3 linked regions of the Homo sapiens genome follow. The gene in region 3 interacts genetically with the main gene of each other region. Each region holds a gene or a part of one and is shown on either strand. Other genes may lie near its edges. The genes, in order: CAND1, SEC23IP and EZH2.

Evidence for each region.
Region 1: changes in EZH2 (region 3) and CAND1 together harm fitness less than expected from each alone (positive genetic interaction), as found in Homo sapiens cells (one large-scale study listed by BioGRID).
Region 2: changes in EZH2 (region 3) and SEC23IP together harm fitness more than expected from each alone (negative genetic interaction), as found in Homo sapiens cells (one large-scale study listed by BioGRID).

The regions. Positions count from the first base shown.
Region 1 is NC_000012.12:67,307,294-67,310,948, reverse strand, and holds part of CAND1 (cullin-associated NEDD8-dissociated protein 1), read right to left. Parts: intron 3,553-3,655; coding exon 3,457-3,552; intron 1,049-3,456; coding exon 879-1,048; intron 798-878; coding exon 633-797; intron 1-632. UniProt on the Homo sapiens protein: Key assembly factor of SCF (SKP1-CUL1-F-box protein) E3 ubiquitin ligase complexes that promotes the exchange of the substrate-recognition F-box subunit in SCF complexes, thereby playing a key role in the cellular repertoire of SCF complexes.
Region 2 is NC_000010.11:119,899,077-119,902,731, reverse strand, and holds part of SEC23IP (SEC23-interacting protein), read right to left. Parts: intron 1-3,655. UniProt on the Homo sapiens protein: Plays a role in the organization of endoplasmic reticulum exit sites. Specifically binds to phosphatidylinositol 3-phosphate (PI(3)P), phosphatidylinositol 4-phosphate (PI(4)P) and phosphatidylinositol 5-phosphate (PI(5)P).
Region 3 is NC_000007.14:148,814,652-148,818,306, reverse strand, and holds part of EZH2 (histone-lysine N-methyltransferase EZH2), read left to right. Parts: intron 1-189; coding exon 190-430; intron 431-915; coding exon 916-1,085; intron 1,086-1,528; coding exon 1,529-1,623; intron 1,624-2,352; coding exon of another isoform or gene 2,353-2,359; exon of another isoform or gene 2,360-2,754; intron 2,755-2,760; coding exon 2,761-2,801; intron 2,802-3,267; coding exon 3,268-3,393; intron 3,394-3,655. UniProt on the Homo sapiens protein: Polycomb group (PcG) protein. Catalytic subunit of the PRC2/EED-EZH2 complex, which methylates 'Lys-9' (H3K9me) and 'Lys-27' (H3K27me) of histone H3, leading to transcriptional repression of the affected target gene.

The sequences.
Region 1 (3,655 bases), on a different chromosome or scaffold from region 3:
CACACAGGAAAACAAAGAACACTTATATGCAAAATTCATTATCCAAACATAAGACGCAGTATGATTTCTCTCAAGTAGCTTCTACAGATTGTTTTGTATATCTGAAAAGTTCCATGTCCTATAACAAAATTCTTGATATTAAACACAGTATATTATATTGAAAAACAAAAATTCCTCATTCAGGTAAATGATACAGTTACAATTCAGACTAGCCCCAAAGGTAGCTCAGGAGACTTAATCAAGACAATGCTAAGAAAACCCTCCATGGGTAGCAACTATGGTCCAATGTTAAGACAGGCCAAAAAGTTACAGATTTATACTTTAAACAGCAAAATCTGTCGGGACTTTTTTGAGGGAAAGGATCTAGGGACTATTCACTAAGCAAGTGGGCACACAGCATTTTGCATCCACTGCCACTTCCTCCTCCAATAAAAAGGGCTCTGGATCTTTCTTACACGTCAACTGGTGTTACACTGCCTATTACTTTTGCACTTTATAGTTTACAATATGCTTATCAAAATCTTCACAGACAACCTGATTTTTCTCAGACACATGAGTAAATTACAAGGGTGAAAGTTGCTCTAGCAAAGTCTTCTTCTAAAACATTGTATAAATAGGCACAAACATCTTACCTTAATATCATAATGGTCCTTCAAACCATCTTCAACATGATTTAGAAATTCAAAGATATCAAGTCTATCAAGACAACTGTCTAGAAGTGTGTACATACACTCAAATGCTGCCTTTCTAATATCCAGACCATCATCAACCGTATGTTTAAATGGACCCATTTCTACCTGTTAAAGCAAAAAAGAACGTGTGGATATACAATACTTAAGTCAAAGACAAGCTCAAATAAACAGTGTGATCTAACTTACCTCTCTTATAAGCTCCTTTCTAACTTTTGTTTCATTGTAAAGATGTGGAAGAACAGTATCCAATAGATCCCTTATTAATGATGGCTTGTTATGTGCTGCTGAATTAAATGTGACCAAGGCTACTCTTCTCACATTCAAATCTGGGTCTTCCAAAGTTTTTAGGAAATCACCTGAAATATTACAAGAAAAGCAACAGACAGACATGATAAACTTAAAATACAATATACATTATATTTTCTCTAAGTTGATATAATTTATTTTTGCTGGTGTCATTGTTATTTCTTCAGTGACGGTCAGGGAAGAACCTGATGAAACACTAAGTGAACCATAACGTTTCTTTCAGCAGCAACGCAACTATCATTTCTGAAGGTGAATATATTTTCAATTGATAATCCACTCTCAGCACTTATAATGCAGAGGGTATGGAAGAAGAGTCCATAAAGTTCCTCAATATCACTTCTATAGATATAAGATATGACAGAGACAGAGCTAAAAAGACTAATCACATGCTTGATTCTCCTTGTAGTTCACTAAAAGCAGCAACAAAAATATTTTTAAACTAAGTTCAAAATAAGAATAAAAAAATGAAGTGAAGACAGACCCACTGCTTAATAAAGATGGAGTACTATTAGCAGATATACAATTAATCAAATGAAAGAGAAACGTGCCTCCAAAAGCCCTACTTTATTTCTGTCTTCAGTAAGAAATACACGAATTCACAGGAAAATAATATAAAAGGAGAAAATTGAAAGCTAACATAGGACAAAAGCCAGAGAAGCCATCTAGGTATTTTAAAAGTCTGCTTACTCTTGCAAATGTGGGCAAGAAAGTATAATGCAAAGATCTTTGGAGTCACATGGTTGGTGGTTCAAATCATTTTACTTGTTAAATGTATGATTTTGTGCAAGTTACTTTAGGCAAGAACCTCAGTTTCTCAGTCAATAAAATGAGGATTATAAACCTTTTAGAGCTATACTGAGCAGAATAAACGGCGCATATATTGTTGAAGACAATGTCTAGTACACACTAAGTATTCACATGTAGCTATTATTCATCATTATATGATCTCAACTCTATCATCAGCAATCTTTTAGAATACACAGGGAAATGTAGGAGAGATAAAAGACTTGAATGCCAACTTGAAAAACCTGCAATTTGAAAATATGGGAGGAAAGAGAGACTTCAGATACTGTAGATTGGGAAACCCAATGTTGATATCCAAGAAAGTTCCAGCACTGATTTAAAAAAAAAAGTCTGAGAAACAGCGTGGTTTCAAAAACAATATAAATGTACCAAACTAATCTCCCCTCCCCTTTATTTGCATACTAAACTGGTAGATTAGAAGAGTAATTACAATAGAGTATATATCCGCTTTCAGTAAAGCATCTAAAATATTGCTATTATGGACAAAATGGTGTCATGAACTAGCAATTTCAATTTTTAAAAAGTTTCCCAGGTGGTTCTGATGTTCAAATAGTCATGAATACTTAACTAGATCATAATTCAATTAGAATGCTAACTACCTGGCTGAGTAACTGTATCAACAATGCATACTGGTTGACTGCTGTCAACATGGAAAGATATTTCTAGAGATATGGCATGGGCCTCTTCCTCTGTCCTATTTTGCATAATACCAATGTCCTCAATAAACATATCAAAGCAGAAAATGTGTGGGGGAAATGCCAATAAGTTGTTTCTCATATAGACTTTAAATAATTTCTAGGCCCTAGCAATAGAACCCATTTGTGCCTGTGCTTTCCTTATTCTGAATTGGCAATCCCTTTCTATGCAGTTCAAATTTTATATTGTATTTTTTTTCTTTCTGGCACACTGAAGAATGGCACAAAGCTACAAAGCTTCTTTGCCAAATCCCTCAATCCTCCCTGATGGTTATCTCCATTATCCTGTCCTCAAGAAAGCAACAAACTAAATTCTGAGGTGTTTTTGGCTATTATCAAACTCTAGGAAAACCAATGATAAAAACAAAATGCAAGGAGGTTATAAAATCAGAAATAATCCCAAAAGCTAATTCTTGTCTTCACAGAAATAGAGAAGCCCTAGTTTTTCTTGGGTTATCTCCTCTTAGTTCTTCTGGGAATTAGCTCTCCCCCCCTTTATTTTTTATTCTTAGGTTATTTTGACCTTAAATATGGAAATCTCCATAGATCTCCTTGGGTGTTAGAAGTAATAATTGAAATTTGAGGCCTTAATAGCTCAAGCAAGACTCATTTAAATCTAGGGAGAAACTTCAGACTGGCCATATAAATCTAGTATCTTTTTGCTTTATCCACTAAAGCTATCTTAGGTCACCCCAAAAATATGGCTATCAAATATGTAGTTGACTCTAAAGACATGCTGGTATATTATAACTTCATTTATGTGCAAAATCATCTAGGAATAATTACAAACAATACAGGCAAATGCAATTTGTTAAAAGTTGTAAGATCATATCAATTTTCTTTTAAACAATTATTTTATAAGCATTTTAATTCCTCGATATTTCTAGTTACTAAGTTCAAGAGTTTCTTGAGAATTCTAAAGTCCAAAAATCAGTATGTTTATCTTTGTTTCCACTTACCTATGCAGTTCTTTAACAGTGGATCAATAGGTTGTGGATGGTCAGAAATTGTAAATTTCACAGCCGTAACCACTGAGCTTCGGGCATATGATGAGCCTAGTTAAAAATAAATTGCAAGTCTATTGGTATGTAGTCCACTAAAACTCACGGACATCATTTTTAAACCACTCCAAATAACACCAGTGTCTTCAATGCCTTA
Region 2 (3,655 bases), on a different chromosome or scaffold from region 3:
AAACTGATGTTAGTAGATTATCCTACATGTATATCTGGACAATTACTTAGTGTAATAACTAGACCCCAAAGCAATTTTAAGAAGAATTTTTAAACCTAACAAAACCCCAAATCAAGGATAAATGCTTGAGGTGAGGGATATCTATACCCCATTTATCCTGATGTGATGATTACACATTGCATGCCTGTATCAAAATATCTCATGTAACCCATAAACATATATACCTACTATGTACCCACAAAAATTAAAAATTAAAAAATTTAGAAAAAAATCAATTACAAGGTGAACCAGACCTTCTCACAGAACACAAAGTAAACTAACACCTTTACAGAAATCAATCTAGCAATACATCTCCCATGATTTATTTAACCTTTTTTGTGTGTGTGAGGCGGAGTTTGCTCTTCTTGCCCAGCCTGGAGTGCAACGGCGCAATGCACAGCCTCCGTCTCCCGAGTTCAAGCGATTCTCCTGCCTCAGCCTCCCAAGTAGCTGGGATTACAGGCATGCGCCACCACACTCAGCTAATTTTGTATTTTTAGTAGAGACAGGGTTTCTCCAGGTTGGTCAGGCTGGTTGCGAACTCCCAACCTCAAGTGACCAGCCCGCCTTGACCTCTCAAAGTGTTGGGATTACAGGTGTGAGCCACCACACCCGGCCTATTTAACCTTTAAAATGTGCCTACTCCTTGACCTACTCATTCCATTTCTAAAAATTTATCCTAAAGATAGAATTATAAAAACAAATAGCCCAGGTGCAGTGGCTCACACCTGTAATCCTGCCACTTTGGGAGGCTGAGGTGGGTGGATCACCTAAGGTCAGGAGTTCGAGACAAGCCGGGCCAACATGGTGAAACCCTGTCTCCACTAAAAATACAAAAATTAGCTGGGCGTGGTGGCACAGGCCTGCAATCCCAGCTACTTGGGAGGCTGAGGCAGGAGAATCGCTTGAACCCGGGAGGCGGAGGTTGCAGTGAGCTGAGACTGCACCACTGCACTCCAGCCTGAGTGACAGAGACTCTGTCTCAAACAATAAATAAAAAATAAAAATAAAAAGTTATCCCCAAGGATATACATCAAAAGGTTATTTAAAATAGGAAATTGGTGTGTACAACTGTCAAAACTCAGCTAATTGTACACTTTAAATAAATCGAATTGTATACTGTAAATGGATGCCTTTTACTGTATGTAAATTATACCTCAATAATGTTGATTATAAAATCATAGCTAATAAATTTGGAATGTTTGCAAAAAAATAAATAAAATAGGAAATCACTGGAAATAATCAAAATGTCTAACAGAAACCTGATTAAATAATATTTAACTCAAATGCTAGATCCTCCAGCGCCATTAAAAATGTCTTATATCCTTTCTGCAGGAGATAGCTAAAAAAAAAAATAAGTAAATAAACAAAAATAAAAGTTTTAGAGGATAGACACGATGGTTCACACCTATAATCCCAGAACTTTGGGAGGCCAAGGAAGGAGGATCATTTGAGGCCAGGAGTTTGAGCCCAACATGAGCAACACAGCAATACCGTTTCTACAAAAAAATCTAAAAATCACACGGACATGGTGGGGCACACTTGTAGTCCCAGCTACTCCTGAGGCTGAAGTGTAGTTCAAGGTTGCAGTGAGCTGTAATCACACCACTGCACTCCACCCTGGATGACAGAGCAAGACCCCCCCCCCACTCTTTAAAAAAAAAAAAAAGAAGAAGAAAAAGAAAAAAATTTTAATGTTTTAGAAAAAATCTTAGTAACATTTAAAGTATGTTCACACAAAAAAAAAATAGATTATAGAAACCATAGGTATTATATGTTTGCCAAAAAAAGACATATAACAAAATGAAAACAGTGGTTATCTATGGACATTTTTTATTAAATTGAGTATTCTGCATTTTTCAAATTTTCTACAAAAACGATTTTAAAATCAGACTAGACTTATTTTAAAATTTTTTAATTAGACACCATTTTGGGACAGGTGTGGTGGCTCACACCTGTAATCCCAGCACTTTGGTAGGCTGAGGCAGGAAGATCACTTGAGGCCCAGGAGTTTGAGACTGCAGGTGAGCTGTGATTGCGCCACTGCATTCCAACCTGGACAACAGAGTGAGACCCAGTCTCAAAAAAATATATAATTTAGCCCATAATCCCAGAACTTTGGGAGGTCAAGGCAGGAGGACTGCTTGAGCCCAGGAGTTTGTGACCAGCCTGGGCAACATAGTGAGACCTCATTTCTACAAAACATAAAAAAAAAATTAGCCAGGTATGGCAGCATGTGCCTGTGGTCCCAGCTACTGGTGAGGCTGAGGTAGGGGGATCACTTGAACCTGAGAATTCGAGGCTACAGTGAGCCGTTACCATGCCACTGCACTCTAGCCTGAGTGACAGAGCAAGACCTGGCCTCAAAAAAAAAAATTTTATATATATATATATACACACACACACACACATACACACACACGTACATATACATACACATATATAATTTCTAAAAAATCATTTTGAAGTATTACATCAACACTCAATTTCCTGAGATTCATAGCTGCACTGTGCACATAAGAAGAATGTCCTTATGCTTAGCAAATGTACACCAGGAATTTAGGAGTAAAGAATCATAATGTATTTTACTGACCTTCAAATATTCCCCCCAAAATTGCATATATACAGAAAGAGAAAAAAACGATGAGGGGAAGGGAGGGAAGAGGGAGGGGCAGGAGGAGAAGCAGGAGGAAGGGGCAGGAGAAAGGGATGGGGGAAGAGGGAGGGCTCACATATGCCAGGGTGTGCACATGCACAAATTAAAAAACAAACGGGATGAAATGTTAATGATAAGTAAACCTGAGTAAAGGATATTAGAGTGCTCTTTGTACTCTTTTTATTTTTGCAACTTTTCTTCAAGTTTGAAATTATCATTTTTTAAACTTTTATCTAAAAACCTTTTTAAAAATTTAAGCAACAAACTACAATTAGTTTGTTATAGTTAGCAAAAATACTAACTATATACCACATGCTATGAATCTGGTTACTTTTCAGAATGCCGAAATCCAACATTGTCAAAAATTTGTGTATTGGTATGATTTAAATGAAATGATAAAACAGAGTCCATTCTCTATCTCTAACAGAGAAGTTAGTTACATTCTGATCACAATACTGCTATCTCCACCACACTGAAATGGGTTCTTAATTCTTTTTAATCATTTCTCTTTTTGTTTAATTCTGTTGATTTTTCTTTGGAAATCAAATAAACAATTAGTTGGGAAAAATGCATAAGGGAATTTCATGAAATTTACCCAATGCATACGTTATTCCACCAACTCTCCCTAGATAGAGTTTGACTGATCTAGATCCAAACTCCATAAAGAAATTACTGAAGTAATCAATTTTAGTCCCTGTAATTGAGTGTTTTGATTGACTAGTGTAATTGAAAGATGAGAAACTAGCAGTCTGTTAAGACAATAACCGCTTCAATTCTCCTATGTCTCTAGACAACACTTATTTTTACCGTACTCTAAAATCTGGAAATACTGACACGTAGCTAACTCATTAAAATCAGTTACTGCTTCAATAAACAGGTAATATACACTAAAATATGAGCCATCCAATAAGCTATCTTTAAGACAATGTTTACTTCATGTAGCTTACAAAGAATACCCTC
Region 3 (3,655 bases):
CTTTCTGAAATTTTCAGACTATCAAAAGCATATCAAAACAAGTATATTAGACATGCAAATGATTATTTGTGATAAATGGATAATGTGATACATTTTTTGACTAACCTGGCTTATATAGTATTTTTTTTTCTCTTCCATCAAAATGAGTTTTAGAACTTTGCCCTGATGTTGACATTTTTCATTTCGTAGGAGGGAGCAAAGGAGTTTGCTGCTGCTCTCACCGCTGAGCGGATAAAGACCCCACCAAAACGTCCAGGAGGCCGCAGAAGAGGACGGCTTCCCAATAACAGTAGCAGGCCCAGCACCCCCACCATTAATGTGCTGGAATCAAAGGATACAGACAGTGATAGGGAAGCAGGGACTGAAACGGGGGGAGAGAACAATGATAAAGAAGAAGAAGAGAAGAAAGATGAAACTTCGAGCTCCTCTGGTAAGACACGTCTAATAACTGGGTTTTACTGTTCTGTGAAAGTTCGTGTTGTGAGGATTAAGGATGTATAATGCATTGAATAATTTTCTTAGTTGGTTAGTTTCAGTATAAAGACCAGAGTTATCTCAAGAATGTGTAGCTGTGTTGTTTCTGTTTCCTGCCTGCACCCGTACCCTAGCTTGTGGTGTTTGCCCTGCTTGGTTGTTTGAAAGCTGATGATGCACTTTATTCTCATTCTTTGTGCCATTTTCTTTTTTCGATCTTTCTCAGGTAGGGAATAATGAAATTTGGATCATTTGGTTTAATATTCTTGACGTTCTGTGAGTAGTTTTGTTGGAAAATGTGAACTACGATGGGTTAGTGTTTTGCCGATTGGATTTGAGTTGTCCTCATCTTTTCGCTTTTTTCTTAAGCACACCCTGAATTGTACTTCTTAATATTATTTCCAATCATTTCTTGACCAGTGCTTACATTTGGTTTTGTAGAAGCAAATTCTCGGTGTCAAACACCAATAAAGATGAAGCCAAATATTGAACCTCCTGAGAATGTGGAGTGGAGTGGTGCTGAAGCCTCAATGTTTAGAGTCCTCATTGGCACTTACTATGACAATTTCTGTGCCATTGCTAGGTTAATTGGGACCAAAACATGTAGACAGGTAAGATATCCGATAAAAATGTTGTTAAAAGAGCTTCAAACATAGAGATAAAACTGTACTCGTTGTCCAAACAAAGAAAATTCTTGGTTATTACTAAGCTCCTATTCATCTCCTAAAAATAATTTTTTTTTCTTCCCAAGAGGGAATTGAATGAAAATTATTCTCCAGGTATGTTACAGAATTTCCCCAATGTAGACTTTTAAGGTTAGATAGCAGTAGCTTTTAAAAGCTAGTAAGAATTGAAATTTAGCATCACAGTTCTTGACCAGAATATAATTACAGCTACCCCTAATGTGAGGGTAGGGACAGCGATGTGTGTTATATCCCCAGCATCTAGCAGTGTCACAGAAGAGACAAAGACATTTTTCTGGTATGCATGAGTATAAGAATGGTTTGCCTAAATAAGACTGTCCTCATGGCTCTGTGACTGTGCCTCTTGTCAGGTGTATGAGTTTAGAGTCAAAGAATCTAGCATCATAGCTCCAGCTCCCGCTGAGGATGTGGATACTCCTCCAAGGAAAAAGAAGAGGAAACACCGGTGAGTCTGTCATGAAGCTCCTTAGAGAAGTCAACATAGATAGACACTGCAGGCAAGGCCCTTCCTAAGGGCTGTTGTTGGTTTCTACTTAGTCTATTTTTAAAAAACCTTAAACTGCCATCAAAAACAGAACTATGGAATCTTATTTCCACTGGGAATTGCTAGTATTTTTCTATAAGAATACAGCAGCCTTCAGTATATTTGGTATGTTAAGAGTCATAAAAATTACGGTTACCAGACTGCATTTGGGTTAAGAAAAACATATTTAGTAGCTTTTGCAGTAAAGGTTACGTAAACAATTACTTTAACATCATGAAATGTTCTGTGTTTCTGATGTGAGCTCTGGGCCAGTTTTTAGAAGTATCTTTTATTCCAGGAGCTTGAATTTCTAAGTTGTGTGGCATTGCATTCCGATACTCCTAATGGGTACCCTACTTTAAGCTTGTGTGAATGTTATTTTCACCTTAGCGAATGTTTTCAGGCTGATTTGATTTGTAAATGTAGAACCAGAAAAATTGATGAGTGGACTATCTGCTCTAATCTCCCCATACCTCTACCTCACATTTTTAAAAATGAGAAACCTAATTGGGTAGGTAAGGGTGCAGTTAGATTATGCTTCTTAAATTGTGTACAGGCTCATGTTACATTTTCTTACTTTAACAAAAATAAGTGTAGGGCCAACCCAATTTAGAATTTTTTTAAAGTCAAGTTTTTATTTTTATTTTTTAGGCTTTAGGAGATGCTTCTGAAATTTTGGTTGAATTATTTCTGACCACGTAGTTCACTTGCTTGGTTTATGATGCCTGAAATAAGAGGAAGTGATCAGTGTCATCCACATCAGAATAAATCAACAGGCAGACACACCTGCTGCTTTGTGCAGCATTGGGAGCTCAGGAGTTCTGACCAGGAGTCATGGATGAACACAGGAAATGACGTCTTGCCACACCTGGGGCAGCCTGAGCCATCAAGCTGTTTGAGTTGCTTCAAACTGATGGCAAATATAAACTGGGCAGGGCATGACTCTTGGCTTTAACGCATTCCTGTATTCATGGCACAGATAGATCCAGTTAAGCAGCTCTCTGTTGGATTTGTAGCTTCCCGCAGAAATTTGGTTTAATTTTCTTTGTGTTTTTGCAGGTTGTGGGCTGCACACTGCAGAAAGATACAGCTGAAAAAGGGTTAGCATCTTTCCATTCCTCTCATTATTAGCTTAACAATATCTGCTTTGTTTTCATTTGTTTTAGAATAGTAACTGGATTAGAGCTTGGGTTATTCTAATATAATTGCCTTCTGTATGTTAAACCAATTTGAATGGAGGACGTCTACTGATGAATCCCCAGTCAATTCTCTTCTGTAAAGTGGAGGCTGACTGGAAGGTGTGAGTCCGAGTCAGTTGAAGGAGAAGTGCTTTGGGATGGGACTGAGATGTAGCCGTGCTTTAGATGGAACTCATAAGCACTTGGGGGTGGGAGAGTATTTTTTGCCATCGTTGTGGAAACCGGAATATGTGTAATGTTATGCATTCAGTAAAGGCAGGCCAGCTACACTCCACAGGTAGTAGGGAAGAATGTACTCGTGTTAATTGTGTATGATCGTTTCCATCTCCCTGGATTCATTGGCCTGCATGATGTTATCTTTACTCAGACGGCTCCTCTAACCATGTTTACAACTATCAACCCTGTGATCATCCACGGCAGCCTTGTGACAGTTCGTGCCCTTGTGTGATAGCACAAAATTTTTGTGAAAAGTTTTGTCAATGTAGTTCAGAGTGTAAGTATTTGTTGCTTTGATGCAATTGCATGAGAACTAAATAGGTCTTTGGTTAGCAATTTAAAAAATCAAAAATAAGAACATGGGAGCACTCCCTTGTTTACTTGACGAAACTCATCAATTTGACAAGTATTTATTGAGCCCCATACCTGGCCCTGTGCCAGTGGCCAGTCAGTCGCCTGGGTGTTGTGTGTCTGTGTGTGTGAGGCAGGCAAAGTTGTATTAAAGGAACCTGAATTTTATTTTTTTCTTCTTTGATCAT